3 separate regions of the Homo sapiens genome follow, and all the other regions are linked to region 3. Evidence: fine-mapped expression QTL. A gene starts in region 3. Each other region holds a variant in brackets. All regions are shown on one strand. Distances are between the middles of the regions. Region 1 overlaps NUCB1 (nucleobindin 1). Region 2 overlaps TULP2 (TUB like protein 2). Region 3 holds the start of NUCB1 (nucleobindin 1).

Region 1 (4,140 bases), 20 kb after region 3:
GTACGACCCAAAGAATGAGGAGGACGACATGCGGGAGATGGAGGAGGAGCGACTGCGCATGCGGGAGCATGTGATGAAGAATGTGAGGTGGGGGCCAGGCGGGGGAGAGGACGGGCCCCCAGCTCTGTCACTCACCCTTATCTGGCTCCCCAGGTGGACACCAACCAGGACCGCCTCGTGACCCTGGAGGAGTTCCTCGCATCCACTCAGAGGAAGGAGTTTGGGGACACCGGGGAGGGCTGGGAGGTGAGAACATGGGGGATACTCGGGGTCCTGAACCTCTCTCTCTTCTAGCCATGACCTTTCTTTCAGAATCTTAGGCCCCTTCTCTTTCTCTCTGGGTCCCCGTCCATTCTCCTGGGTCACTGCATCTCTATCTCTGGGTCTCTGTTTTCCCCTGTCTCTAGGACTCTTATTTATTTATTTATTTATTTATTTATTTATTTATTTATTCTGAGACGGAGTCTCACTCCATCGCCCAGGCTGCAGTGCAGTGGCACGATCTCGGCTCACTGCAGCCTCCACCTCCCAGGTTCAAGCAATTCTCCTGGCTCATCCTCTTGAGTAGCTGGGATTATAGGTGCGTGCCACCACACCCAGCTGATTTTTGTATTTTTAGTAGAGGCAGGATTTCACCATGTTGGCCAGGCTGGTCTCAAACTCCTGACCTCAGGTTATCCACCCACCTTGGCCTCCCAAAGTGCTGGGATTAGAGGTGTGATTTTTTTTTTTTTTTTTTTTTTTCTGAAACAGGGTCTTGCTCTGTCGCGTAGGCTGGAGCCCAGTGGTGGGATCTCGGCTCACTGCAACCTCCGCCTCTTGGATTCAAGCGATCCTCCCATCTCAGCCTCATGAGTAGCTGGGATTACAGGCGTGAGCCACCATGCCTGGCTAATTTTTGTATTTTTTGTAGAGATGGGGTTTTGCCATATCGGCCAGGCTGCTCTAGAACTGCTGGACTCAAGCGATCCACCTGACCTGGCCTCCCTAAGTGGTGGGATTACAGGCATGCACCACCGCACCACACCTAGCTAATTTTTGTATTTTTTGGTAGAGACAGGGTTTTGCATGTTGGCCAGGCTGCTCTGAAACTCCTGGACTCAAGCTATCCACCCTTCTCAGCCTCCCAAAGTGCTGGGATTACCCAGGCTGGAGTGCAGGGGTGTTATCATGGCCCACTGCAGCCTCAAACTCCTGTCCTCAAGTGATCCTCCTGCCTGAGCCTCCCTATTAGCTGGGACTACAGGCACATGCCAGCATGCCTAGCTAATCTAGCTCATTCTTTTATTTATTTATTAATATTTTTTGAGACAGGGTCTCCTGTCACCCAGGCTGGAGTGCAGTGGTGTAATCATAGTTCACTGCAGCCTTGAATTCCTGGGCTCAGGTGATCCTCCTTCCTTAGCCTCCTGAGTAACTGGGACTACAGGCACATACCACCATGCCCAGCTAATCTAGGTCTCTGTTTTATTTATTTATTTATTTGTTTGTTTATTTTTCAATACAGAGTTTTGCTCTTGTTGCCCAGGCTGTAGTGCAATGGTGCATTCTCAGCTCATTGCAACCTCCACCTCCCAGGTTCAAGCAATTCTCCTGCCTCAGCCTCCTGAGTAGCTGGGATTATATGCATGTACCACCATGCCCTGCTCATTTTGTATTTTTAGTAGAGACGGGGTTTCTCCATGTTGGTCAGGCTCATCTCAAACTACTGACCTCAGGTGAGCCACCCACCTCGGCCTCCGAAAGTGCTGGGATTACAGGTGTGAGCCATGGTGCCTGGCCTATTTCTATATATTTTTCAAGATGCCCAGCCAATTTTCTGTAGAGACAGGGTCTCGCTCCGTTGCCCAGGCTGACCTTGAACTCCTGGCGTCAAGTGATCCTTCCCACTTTCGCCTCCCAAAGTCCTGGGATTACAGGTGGGAGCCATGGTGCCCGGCCTTGTCTCTCGGTCTTTATCCCACTCCCACCTCCCACTTGGGCTTCTTTGCCCACCCACATGGCCCTGGCCTCCCAGCCTCCTCTACACCTCCCCCATTGGCACAACCCTCTCCAA[C/T]ATGGGTGGGCCGAGGTTGGACCTGTGCCCCTGATGGCCCCTGTGCCTGCCCTGCAGACAGTGGAGATGCACCCTGCCTACACCGAGGAAGAGCTGAGGCGCTTTGAAGAGGAGCTGGCTGCCCGGGAGGCAGAGCTGAATGCCAAGGCCCAGCGCCTCAGCCAGGAGACAGAGGCTCTAGGGCGGTCCCAGGGCCGCCTGGAGGCCCAGAAGAGAGAGCTGCAGCAGGTGACAGCGGGGGAAGCTGCTTCCATCCACTGAATCTCTGGCTGCCCGTGTCCGTGTCCCCATGGGTGTCCAGAAGCTGGGAAGGCCTGTGGCCACCATGTTAATCACTGGGGGAGCCTCAAGTATTCACCGCCATCTTGAGTAAGGGCAGACGTTTTCCCGTCTCTGACGGCTCTGTGGCTGCCATGTGAGATAAGGGCATTAAGGCTGTAAGTGAGGAGGGAAAGGCCCAGGAGGGGGAGAAAGGCAGACTCAGCCAGGGATGGGTGAGGGTTTCCCTGTCCCAAAGCAAGACCCAAGCTGTGACTGGAGGGAGAACTGGATCCTTGACTATTATTAAGCCCGACTGTCAATGAAAGAGAGAAACTGAGGCCCACGGAGAAGGGGTTGGCCGTGACCACTTAGCAGGCTGCTGTGAAGTCTCCGTTTGGGGACTGAGGCCTGAGCACTTGCAATGCCAGCATCACACCCTCTTGTCTGTGTGACCCCCCACCTCCCACAGGCTGTGCTGCACATGGAGCAGCGGAAGCAGCAGCAGCAGCAGCAGCAAGGCCACAAGGCCCCGGCTGCCCACCCTGAGGGGCAGCTCAAGTTCCACCCAGACACAGGTGCTGGCCCTAGTCCAGGGAGGAGGGGCTGCAGGGCTGGACCCCTGGGTCTGAGGTTGGAGGGGCTGGGCCTGGACTCCCAGATCTGAGGGAAGAGGGACTGGGGGCCCAGACTCCCAGATCTGAGGGAAGAGGGACTGGGGGTCCGGACTCCTGGGTCTGAGGGAGGAGGGGCTGGGGGCTGGGACCCCTGGGTGTGAGGGAGGAGGGGCTGGGACCCCTGGGTGTGAGTGAGGAGGGGCTGGGGGCTGGACCCCTGGGTGTGAGGGAGGAGGGGCTGGGGGCTGGACCCCTGGGTGTGAGGGAGGAGGGGCTGGGCCTCTGGGGTCCTGGGGGAGGAGGGGTTCGGATGTCCTGTGCCACCATTCCCTCCCTCCATTTCCAGACGATGTACCTGTCCCAGCTCCAGCCGGTGACCAGAAGGAGGTGGACACTTCAGAAAAGAAACTTCTCGAGCGGCTCCCTGAGGTTGAGGTGCCCCAGCATCTGTGATCCTCCGGGACCCCAGCCCTCAGGATTCCTGATGCTCCAAGGCGACTGATGGGCGCTGGATGAAGTGGCACAGTCAGCTTCCCTGGGGGCTGGTGTCATGTTGGGCTCCTGGGGCGGGGGCACGGCCTGGCATTTCACGCATTGCTGCCACCCCAGGTCCACCTGTCTCCACTTTCACAGCCTCCAAGTCTGTGGCTCTTCCCTTCTGTCCTCCGAGGGGCTTGCCTTCTCTCGTGTCCAGTGAGGTGCTCAGTGATCGGCTTAACTTAGAGAAGCCCGCCCCCTCCCCTTCTCCGTCTGTCCCAAGAGGGTCTGCTCTGAGCCTGCGTTCCTAGGTGGCTCGGCCTCAGCTGCCTGGGTTGTGGCCGCCCTAGCATCCTGTATGCCCACAGCTACTGGAATCCCCGCTGCTGCTCCGGGCCAAGCTTCTGGTTGATTAATGAGGGCATGGGGTGGTCCCTCAAGACCTTCCCCTACCTTTTGTGGAACCAGTGATGCCTCAAAGACAGTGTCCCCTCCACAGCTGGGTGCCAGGGGCAGGGGATCCTCAGTATAGCCGGTGAACCCTGATACCAGGAGCCTGGGCCTCCCTGAACCCCTGGCTTCCAGCCATCTCATCGCCAGCCTCCTCCTGGACCTCTTGGCCCCCAGCCCCTTCCCCACACAGCCCCAGAAGGGTCCCAGAGCTGACCCCACTCCAGGACCTAGGCCCAGCCCCTCAGCCTCATCTGGAGCCCCTGAAGACCAGTCCCACCC
Region 2 (4,146 bases), 22 kb before region 3:
TGGCAACGGGCGTCTTCCCAGATGCTGGCGTTACCGCTAGACCAAGGAGCCCTTCTGCTGGCCCTGTCCGGGCATAACAGAAGCCTCGCACTCTTGTCTTGTGGTCACTTCTCACTATGTCTCCTCAGCTCCTATCTCTGTATGGCCTGGTTTTTCCTAGGTTATGATTATAGAGCGAGGATTATTATAATATTGGGATAAAGAGTAATTGCTACAAACTAATGATTAATGATATTCATATATAATCATATCTAAGATCTATATCTGGTATAATTATTCTTGTTTTATATTTTATTATACTGGAACAGCTCATGTCCTCGGTCTCTTGCCTCGGCACCTGGGTGTCTTGCCGCCCACATAACAGCTGGTGGGTTTTATAGTTTTTTTTGTTGCTTTTTTTGAGACTGAGTCTCGCTCTGTTGCCCAGGCTGAAGTGCAGTGGTGCAATCTCAGCTCACCACAACCTCTGCCTCCCAGGTTCAAGTGATTCTCCTGCTTCAGCCTCCCGAGTAGCTGGGACTAGAGGTGTGCGCCACCACGCCTGGCTAATTTTTGTATTTTTAGTAGAGACAGGGTTTCACTATGTTGGCCAGGCTGGTCTCAAACTCCTGACCTTGTGATCCACCTGCCTTGGCCTCCCAAAATGCTGAGATAACAGGCGTGAGCCAATGCACCCGGCCTATGTATTTTTGTTTGTTTGTTTGAGATGGAGTCTCGCTGTGTCACCCAGGCTGGAATGCGGTGGCACGATCTCTGCTTACTGCAACCTCCGCCTCCTGGGTTCAAGCGATTCTCCTGTCTTAGTCTCCTGAGTAGCTGGGATTACAGGCACACTCCACCATGCCTGGCTAATTTTTGTATTTTTAGTAGAGACGGGGTTTCACTACGTTGATCAGGCTGGTCTCGAACTCCTGACCTCATGATCCACCCGCCTTGGCCTCCCAAAGTGCTGGGATTACAGGCGTGAGCCACCGCACCCAGACCCGGCCTGTAGTTTTTCTTTGACATCTGCCTAAATTGTATTAAACTTGGGACAATTATCACCACCCCCCCAAGGGAGCTGGAGAATTGAGTCACGGATCCCTAAAAGGAGGCAGAATTGTCTGTGCCTTGCTGGACCATTAAGGCTCAATCTCTACAGGCCTTTACATTCTCCTCCGTTGCTTTGATACCAGTGGGTATCGAGGTCCCCAAGCCCGGGTGGGACCTCCCCCTCAGCCAGTGTTCAGGCTCTTGACACAGTCATGAAAATGAATTCAAGGACGAGTTGGAAAAGAGTGAAAATACAGGATTTATTGCAAAGGGGAAAGTCCACACTCATGAAAGGGGACTCGAGAGAATCACGTGCAAGGGGGGTTGAGGCTGCTACCGTTATGGGTTTTTTGTTTGTTTGTTTGTTTTTTAAAGATGGAGTCTTGTTCTGTCCAGCCCAGGCTGGAGTGTAGTGACACGATCTCAGCTCACTGCAACCTCCACCTCCTGGGTTCAAACAATTCTCCTACCTTAGCTTCCCAAGCAGCTGGGACTGCAGGCGCCACCACACCTGGCTAATTTTTTGTATTTTTAGTAGAGACAGGGTTTCTCCATGTTGGCCAGGCTGGTCTCAAAGTCCTGACCTCAAGTGATCCACCTGCCTCAGCCTCTCAAAGTGCTGGGATTACAGACGTGAGCCACCACGCTGGCCCTTTTTGGATTTTTTTAACCAAGGGGTAAAATACTCATGAGCATTCCTGGAAAAAGATGGAGATTTCTCAGAACTGTGGTGCCACCCATCTTTACACCAAATATGGGTGTTCCTGGGACCGTCATGATGCTGGTGGGTGTGTGACTGTGTTGATGAACATATAATGAGGTCCTACGTGAAACCGAGGTCAGACCCAGTGCCATATTGGGTCTAGTCGGACTTAGCCTACTTGGCCCACGCCCTGGTTTTTCAGGATCTTATCAGCCCATAGCTTCTGTAGCTATTTCAAGTTTCCTGTTGCTGGTCTGGTCTTGTGAAACTGCTGCCTGGAATTTTCTAATCTCCTGCAACCACCCTGTATGATTGCTGTTGCAGCCTGATTTTACATTTATAAGCCCTGTGTCCATAGGCCTAGTTTCCTTATCTGTAAGCTGACTAACAATTGTACATATCTTATGGGATTGTAAGGCCCCAAAGGAGTTAAAACAATGCTCATGAAATAAATGCTATAATACGGTAATTATTCTATATACCGTTATTCTTTTTTTTTTTTTTTTTTTTTTCCTGATACGGAGTCTCACTCTGCTGCCCAGGCTGGGGTGCAGTGGTGGGCTCTCGGCTCACTGCAACCTCCAC[T/C]TCCCAGGTTAAAACAATTCTCCTGGATCAGCCTCCCAAGAAGCTGGGACTACAGGTGTGCGCCACCACTTCCAGCTAATTTTTTTTTTTTTTATGGAGTTTCACTCTTGTTACACAGGCTGGAGTGCAATGGCACGATCTCAGCACACCAGCAACCTCCGCCTCCTGGGTTCAAGCGATTCTCCTGCCTCAGCCTCCTGAGCAGTTGGGATTACAGGCGTGAGCCATCACGCCCAGCTAAGTTTTGTATTTTTAGTAGAGAAGGAGTTTCACCATGTTGGTGGTCAGGAGTTTGAGACTCCTGACCTCATGATCCGCCCACCTCAGTCTCCCAAAATGCTGGGATTATGGGCATGAGCCACTATGCCCACCTCTACCTCTAATTTTTAATTTTTTTTTTTTTTTTTGAGACCGAGTCTCTCTGTGTCACCCAGGCTGGAGTGCAGTGGCGTGATCTCGGCTCACTACAACCCCCTGGGTTCAAGCAATTCTCCTGCCTCGGCCTCCCTAGTACCTGGGATTATATGCGTGCGCTACCACGCAGGGCTAATTTTTGTATTAATCTACCTCTAGACCTTCACAGAATGCAGGCTCCTCTCATCCTCCTAACCTAATGGCCTTTCATTAGCTTTACAAAAGCAGCTTAGTTAAACTAGAAATCCTAGCACTTTGGGTGGCCGAGGTAGATGGATCACTTGAGGTCAGGTTTTTGTTTGTTTGTTTGTTTTGTTTGTTTATTTTGAGGCAGAGTCTTGCTCTGTCGCCCAGGCTGGAGTGCAATGGCAGGATCTTGGCTCCCTGCAACCTCCGCCTCCCGAGTTCAAGTGATTCTCCTGCCTCAGTCTCCTGAATAGTTGGGATTATAGGGGCCCGCCACCACACAGGGCTAATTTTTGTATTTTTAGTAGAGACGGGGTTTCACCTTGTTGGTCAGGCTGATCTCTAACTCGAGGTCAGGAGTTTGAGACCCCCACTCCTGCCATATAATCCTTTCATTTCCCCAAGGCAACCAAGCCTAATTCCACCTAATTAAAAACCTTTGTATGAGTGCTACCTGCTGCCTGAGGATCCCAACCCTGAGGCCTCTTGCTCAGCTAGTTGCTCCTGATTCTTCAGATGTAGTGTGAAAATTCCTTTTTTTGGTGGGGGGATAGAGTCGCATTCTGTTGCCCAGGCTGGAGTGCAGTGGCACGATCGGGTCACTGCAACCTCCGCTTCCCAGATTCAAGCAATTCTCGTGCCTCGGCCACCGGAGTAGCTGGGATTACAGGCATGCGCCACCATGCCCAGCTAATTTTTGTATTTTTAGTAGAGACGGGGTTTGCCATATCGGCGAGGCTGGTCTCGAACTCCTGACCTCAAGTGATCCTTCCGCCTCGACCTCCTAAAGTGTTGGGATTCCAGGTGTGAGCCACCGCGCCCGGCATTTTTTTTTTTTTTTTTTTTTTGAGACAGAGTCTAGCTGGAGTGAAGTGGAGCTATCTCAGCTCACTGCAGCCTCCGCCTCCCAGATTCAAGTGTTTCTTCTGCCTCAGTCTCCTGAATAGCTGGGATTACAGGTGCCTGCCACCACGCCCAGCTAATTTTTGTACTTTTAGTAGAGACGGGGTTTCACATGTTGGCCAGGCTGGTCTCGATCTCCTGACTTCAGGTGATGCACCAGCTTCAGCCTGCCAAAGTGTTGGGATTACAGGCGTGAGCCACCTTGCCCGGTCAGTGTTGGTTATTAAGGTGGTGCAAAAGAAGGCATGTCGGGGCCCTTCCTCCAAATGAGGAGGCACAGAAGCTGGCAAGGGTATGGTATTTTATTGAGTTATTCAACAGCC
Region 3 (4,000 bases):
AATCTCGGGATATCTGCGAAATAGGGAGGAGAAGAAAGACGGCTCAGAGGGAGGGAGGATTCCCTCTGGGACCTGAACTGGTCCACTCCCTTCTGACCCTCCACTCTCCACTTCCAACAAAGTAACGAACTCGGTCACTGATGCAGCCAGGCAACCCTGCTCCGGGGGTTCTGAACACGAATGCCGTGTGGGGGTTCCTTAAAGAGACCAGAGACCGGCCCGGCGCGGTGGCTCACGCCTGTAATCCCAGCACTTTGGGAGGCCGAGGCGGGCGGATCACGGGGTCAGGAGATCTAGACCATCCTGGCTAACATGGTGAATCCCCGTCTCTACTAAAAAAAAATATATATATATACACAAAAAAATTAGCCGGGCGTTGTGGCGGGCGGGCGCCTGTAGTCCCAGCTACTCGGGAGGCTGAGGCAGGAGAATGGCGTGAACCCGGGAGGCGGAGCTCGCAGTGAGCTGAGATCGCGCCACTGCACTCCAGCCTGTGTGACAGAGGTAGACACCGTCTCAAAAAAAAAAAAAAAAAGAGAGAGAGAGAGCGGGAGACCAGAGACCTCGCGGCCTCACTGTACACATCTCGCTTACAAGAAACTTAAAAGAGGCGGGGCGCAGTGGCTCACGCCTGTAATCCCAGCACTTTGGGAGGCGGAGACGGGGAGGCAAGATTGCTTGAGTCCAGGAGATCCAGATCCAGACCAGCAACACAGAGATTTTTTTTTTTTTTTGAGACGTAGTCTCACTCTGTCGCCCAGGCTGGAGTGCAGTGGCGCGATCTCGGCTCACTGCAACCTCCGCCTCCCGGGTTTAAGAGATTGTCCTGCCTCAGCTTCCTGAGTAGCTGGGATTACAGGCATGCGCAACCACGCCTGGCTAATTTGTATTTTTAGTGGAGGCGAGGTTTCTCCATGTTGGCCAGGCTGGTCTCAAACCCTTGACCTCAGGTGATCTGCCTGCCTCAGCCTCCCAAAGTGCTGGGATTACAGGAGTGAACCCCCAAGCCCGGCTTGACATCCGTCTCTTTAAAAAACAACAACAACAAAGTGTGAGAAGTGTGAAAGACAGAACGTTAAAAAAAAAAAAAGGCTAAAAAAGAATTAAAGATTTAAATATTTGTATTAAAAATTTAAAAAATATACATTAGCCAGGCATGGTAGTGTGGCCTGTGGTCCCATCTACTTGGGAGGCTGACGCGGGAGGATTGCTTGGGCCTGGGAGGTAGAGGCTGCAGTGAGAAGTGATTGCGCCACTGCACTCCAACCTGGGTGACAGAGCAAACCCTGTCTCGAATAATAAGAAGAAGAAGAAAGAAACTCATAAGAAAGGCTATGCAATTGCTACCGCGCTATAACTTCCAGGCACTTCGTGGGGCGAAAATAAATGGGAAAACTACAGCTCCCATGAGGCGAAGGGGCCACGATGCCCGCGGAAGTTATTTTTCCCCCGGCCGGCAGGGAGTTGTAGTTATCTTTGAAAGCCTTCTCTCTCTTTTGGCATAGGCGGGAAATGTGGCGTCAAGAGGCTGGGATTCCGAGAAAGAAGCGAGGCTTTCACGAAAATGCGAGCGGCTTCGGCAAGGGGCGGGGCCGCTGGACGTGGATGAAAGCTACAGAGCCAGCGTGGACCAATCAGACCTCTTTGGGGCGGGGCCTCTGTGGATAAGTGGGCGTGGTCTAGGGGGGAAGTCACCAAGAACGCACCGGAGGTCCTTGCCCGCCCTGGAAAACGCCCTCTGCGGTGAAGGAGAGGTGAGAGGCCAGGGTTCCCATACTCTTGGGTCCTAGGGAGGATGGGGGCCAGAGGGCTGGAAAACTGGGTCCCGGAGGAGGATGCACTGGGTGCCAGTACTTTAGGTCCTGGGAAAAGAGGAGGCTGGGACCCTGGACTCTTGGGTCTGGGGGAGGAGGCGGCCGAGATCCCGGATTCCTGAGTGTGAGAGAGGAGCGTGTTGGGAGCCAGGACCCCTGGGTCTGAGGGCCCAGACTCCTGTGTCGGAGGAAGGGAAGGCCGGAGGCCTGGAATCCTGGGGCCTGGGTAACAAAATGCTTGTGTCTTGATTCTTGGAAGTGGGGGCGGCGCTGGGGGCCCGAACTCCTGGTTCCAGGGGAGGAAGAGGCTTGGGACAGACATTATGCATTATCCAGCCCTCCATCCCCCACAGACCACACTGCCATGCCTCCCTCTGGGCCCCGAGGAACCCTCCTTCTGTTGCCGCTGCTGCTGCTGCTCCTGCTTCGCGCCGTGCTGGCTGTCCCCCTGGAGCGAGGGGCGCCCAACAAGGAGGAGACCCCTGCGACTGAGAGTCCCGTGAGTGGCCCTGCCCTGCTATCCAGCCAGGTGTTTGCAGTGGTACTACAGCTCCTGCAGACCCCGGTGCCCGTAGGGCGGATGCTCCAGTGACTTCCTGGCCCTACAGTTGTAGCTTGTTTTTTGCCCACCATTCCTCCCAGCAGCAGGGGTTTGACTTGGTGAAAAACTGGAGGTCCCTGACTCTGAGGTGTGGAAAATCTGCATCACGCCCCAACTAAACGTCTGTTTTTTTAAGATTCTCTCCACCCAAGAAGGAATTTGAAAACAAACAAACAAAACTACATTTCCCAGTAGCACCATGTTGCTAGTTCCCAGTAGCAGTTGATGTTGGCTAGCTGGGGTATTCTGACTTCATGGTGCTCTTGGGAGTTGTAGTTTAAATTACAGAAGGGCGGGTGAACTGCTTGTTTATTAATTCCTACATGTGTTTATCAAACCCAATAAAAGCTTTGGTCTTAAGGGATTTGGAACTTTGGAGATCCTGAAGGTCAGTGAGTGTCTTGTGGTCCGAATCTTCCTATAGCTCCCCATAAGGATAGGCTGGTCAGGCCAGGCGCAGTGGCTCATGCCTGTAATCCTAGCACTTTGGGAGGCCGAGACAGGCGGATCACTTGAGGTCAGGAGTTCAAGACCAGCCTGGCCAACATGGCAAAACCCCATCTCTACCAAAAATGCAGAAATTAGCTGGGCGTGGTGGCTCACGCCTATAATCCCAGCTACTCTGGGAGGCTGAGGCACGAATTCTCGTGCTGGAACCAAGAGAGGTGGAGGTTGCAGTGAGCCAAGGTCACGCCATTGCACTCCAGCCTGGGCAACAGAGCTGAGACTCTGTTTTCTGAGACTGTCTCAAAAAACAAAGAATGGGCTAGTCATTACCCCCTGGAACGGATCATTGCATGTTCCTGGTCCCCACGCTGCAAGTTAGGCCTCTATTCTGTGAAATCCTTGCAGACCCAGGAAGGCTTTGTTGAGTCCCATTTCTTTTCTTCCATTCCACATGTTTCCTGAGCACCTTCTATGAGCCGGGCATAGTGTTGCCTATGTGTTGCATAGTTGTTAGGGCCCAGCCATGTGCATGCCCCATGCCCATGGACTATCCCTGCTCACTGGGAGATGGAAGACAAAGGGCAGGGCTCTATGAGAGTGAACACCAGGGGTGACAGTCAGGGAGGAAGGGAGGCGTGAGTTGAGTTCTTTCTTTCTTTCTCGCTCTGTCACCAGGCTGGAGTGCAGTGGTGCAATCTTGGCTCACTGCAACCTCTGCCTCCCAGGTTCAGGTGATTCTCCTGCCTCAGCCTCCCGAGTAGCTGGGACTACAGGCGCACACCACCACGCCCATCTAATTTTTGTATTTTTAGTAGAGACGGAGTTTCACCATGTTGGCCAGGATGGTCTCGATCTCTTGACCTCTTGATCTGCCTGCCTCGGCCTCCCAAAGTGGTGGGATTACAGGCATGAGCCACCTCATTTTTTCTTTTCCTTTTTCTTTTTTTTTTTTTTTTTTATTTTTGCTGTGTCACCCAAGCTGGAGTGCAGTGGTGCAATCACTGCAATCTCCATCTCCCAGACTCAAGCGATCCTCCTGCCTCAGCCTCTGGAGTAGCTGGGACTGCAGGCATGTGCCACCATGCCTAGCTAATTTTTTTTGTATTTTTGATAGAGACAGGGTGTCATTATACTGCCC

The links. PIP is the estimated chance that this variant, and not a neighbour inherited with it, causes the effect.
Region 1: its variant is the best candidate, but not a certain one, in a credible set for the expression of NUCB1 in whole blood (INTERVAL, PIP 0.72).
Region 2: its variant is the best candidate, but not a certain one, in a credible set for the expression of NUCB1 in whole blood (TOPMed, PIP 0.64).

What each region holds. Positions count from the first base shown.
Region 1 is chr19:48,919,041-48,923,180 of GRCh38, forward strand. NUCB1 (nucleobindin 1) reads left to right here. Exons shown (of 13, transcript NM_006184.6): 9 at 1-82; 10 at 154-246; 11 at 2,114-2,284; 12 at 2,787-2,892; 13 at 3,278-4,140. The coding sequence ends at 3,384. Among named protein-coding and RNA genes, the nearest start is that of NUCB1-AS1, 2.2 kb to the left of the region's middle. RefSeq lists enhancers at 50-549, 3,696-4,140. The variant C/T (reference allele first, on the strand shown) is at 2,057.
Region 2 is chr19:48,876,860-48,881,005 of GRCh38, forward strand. It overlaps TULP2 (TUB like protein 2), which reads right to left. Exons shown (of 13, transcript NM_003323.3): 13 at 4,108-4,146. Among named protein-coding and RNA genes, the nearest start is that of PPP1R15A, 6.5 kb to the left of the region's middle. RefSeq lists enhancers at 1-127, 2,679-3,391 and cis regulatory regions at 1,109-2,069, 1,626-2,238. The variant T/C (reference allele first, on the strand shown) is at 2,321.
Region 3 is chr19:48,898,619-48,902,618 of GRCh38, forward strand. NUCB1 (nucleobindin 1) reads left to right here and starts at 1,694. Exons shown (of 13, transcript NM_006184.6): 1 at 1,694-1,754; 2 at 2,168-2,313. The coding sequence starts at 2,179. It overlaps TULP2 (TUB like protein 2), which reads right to left and starts at 126. Exons shown (of 13, transcript NM_003323.3): 1 at 1-126. RefSeq lists an enhancer at 1-336 and a cis regulatory region at 1-870.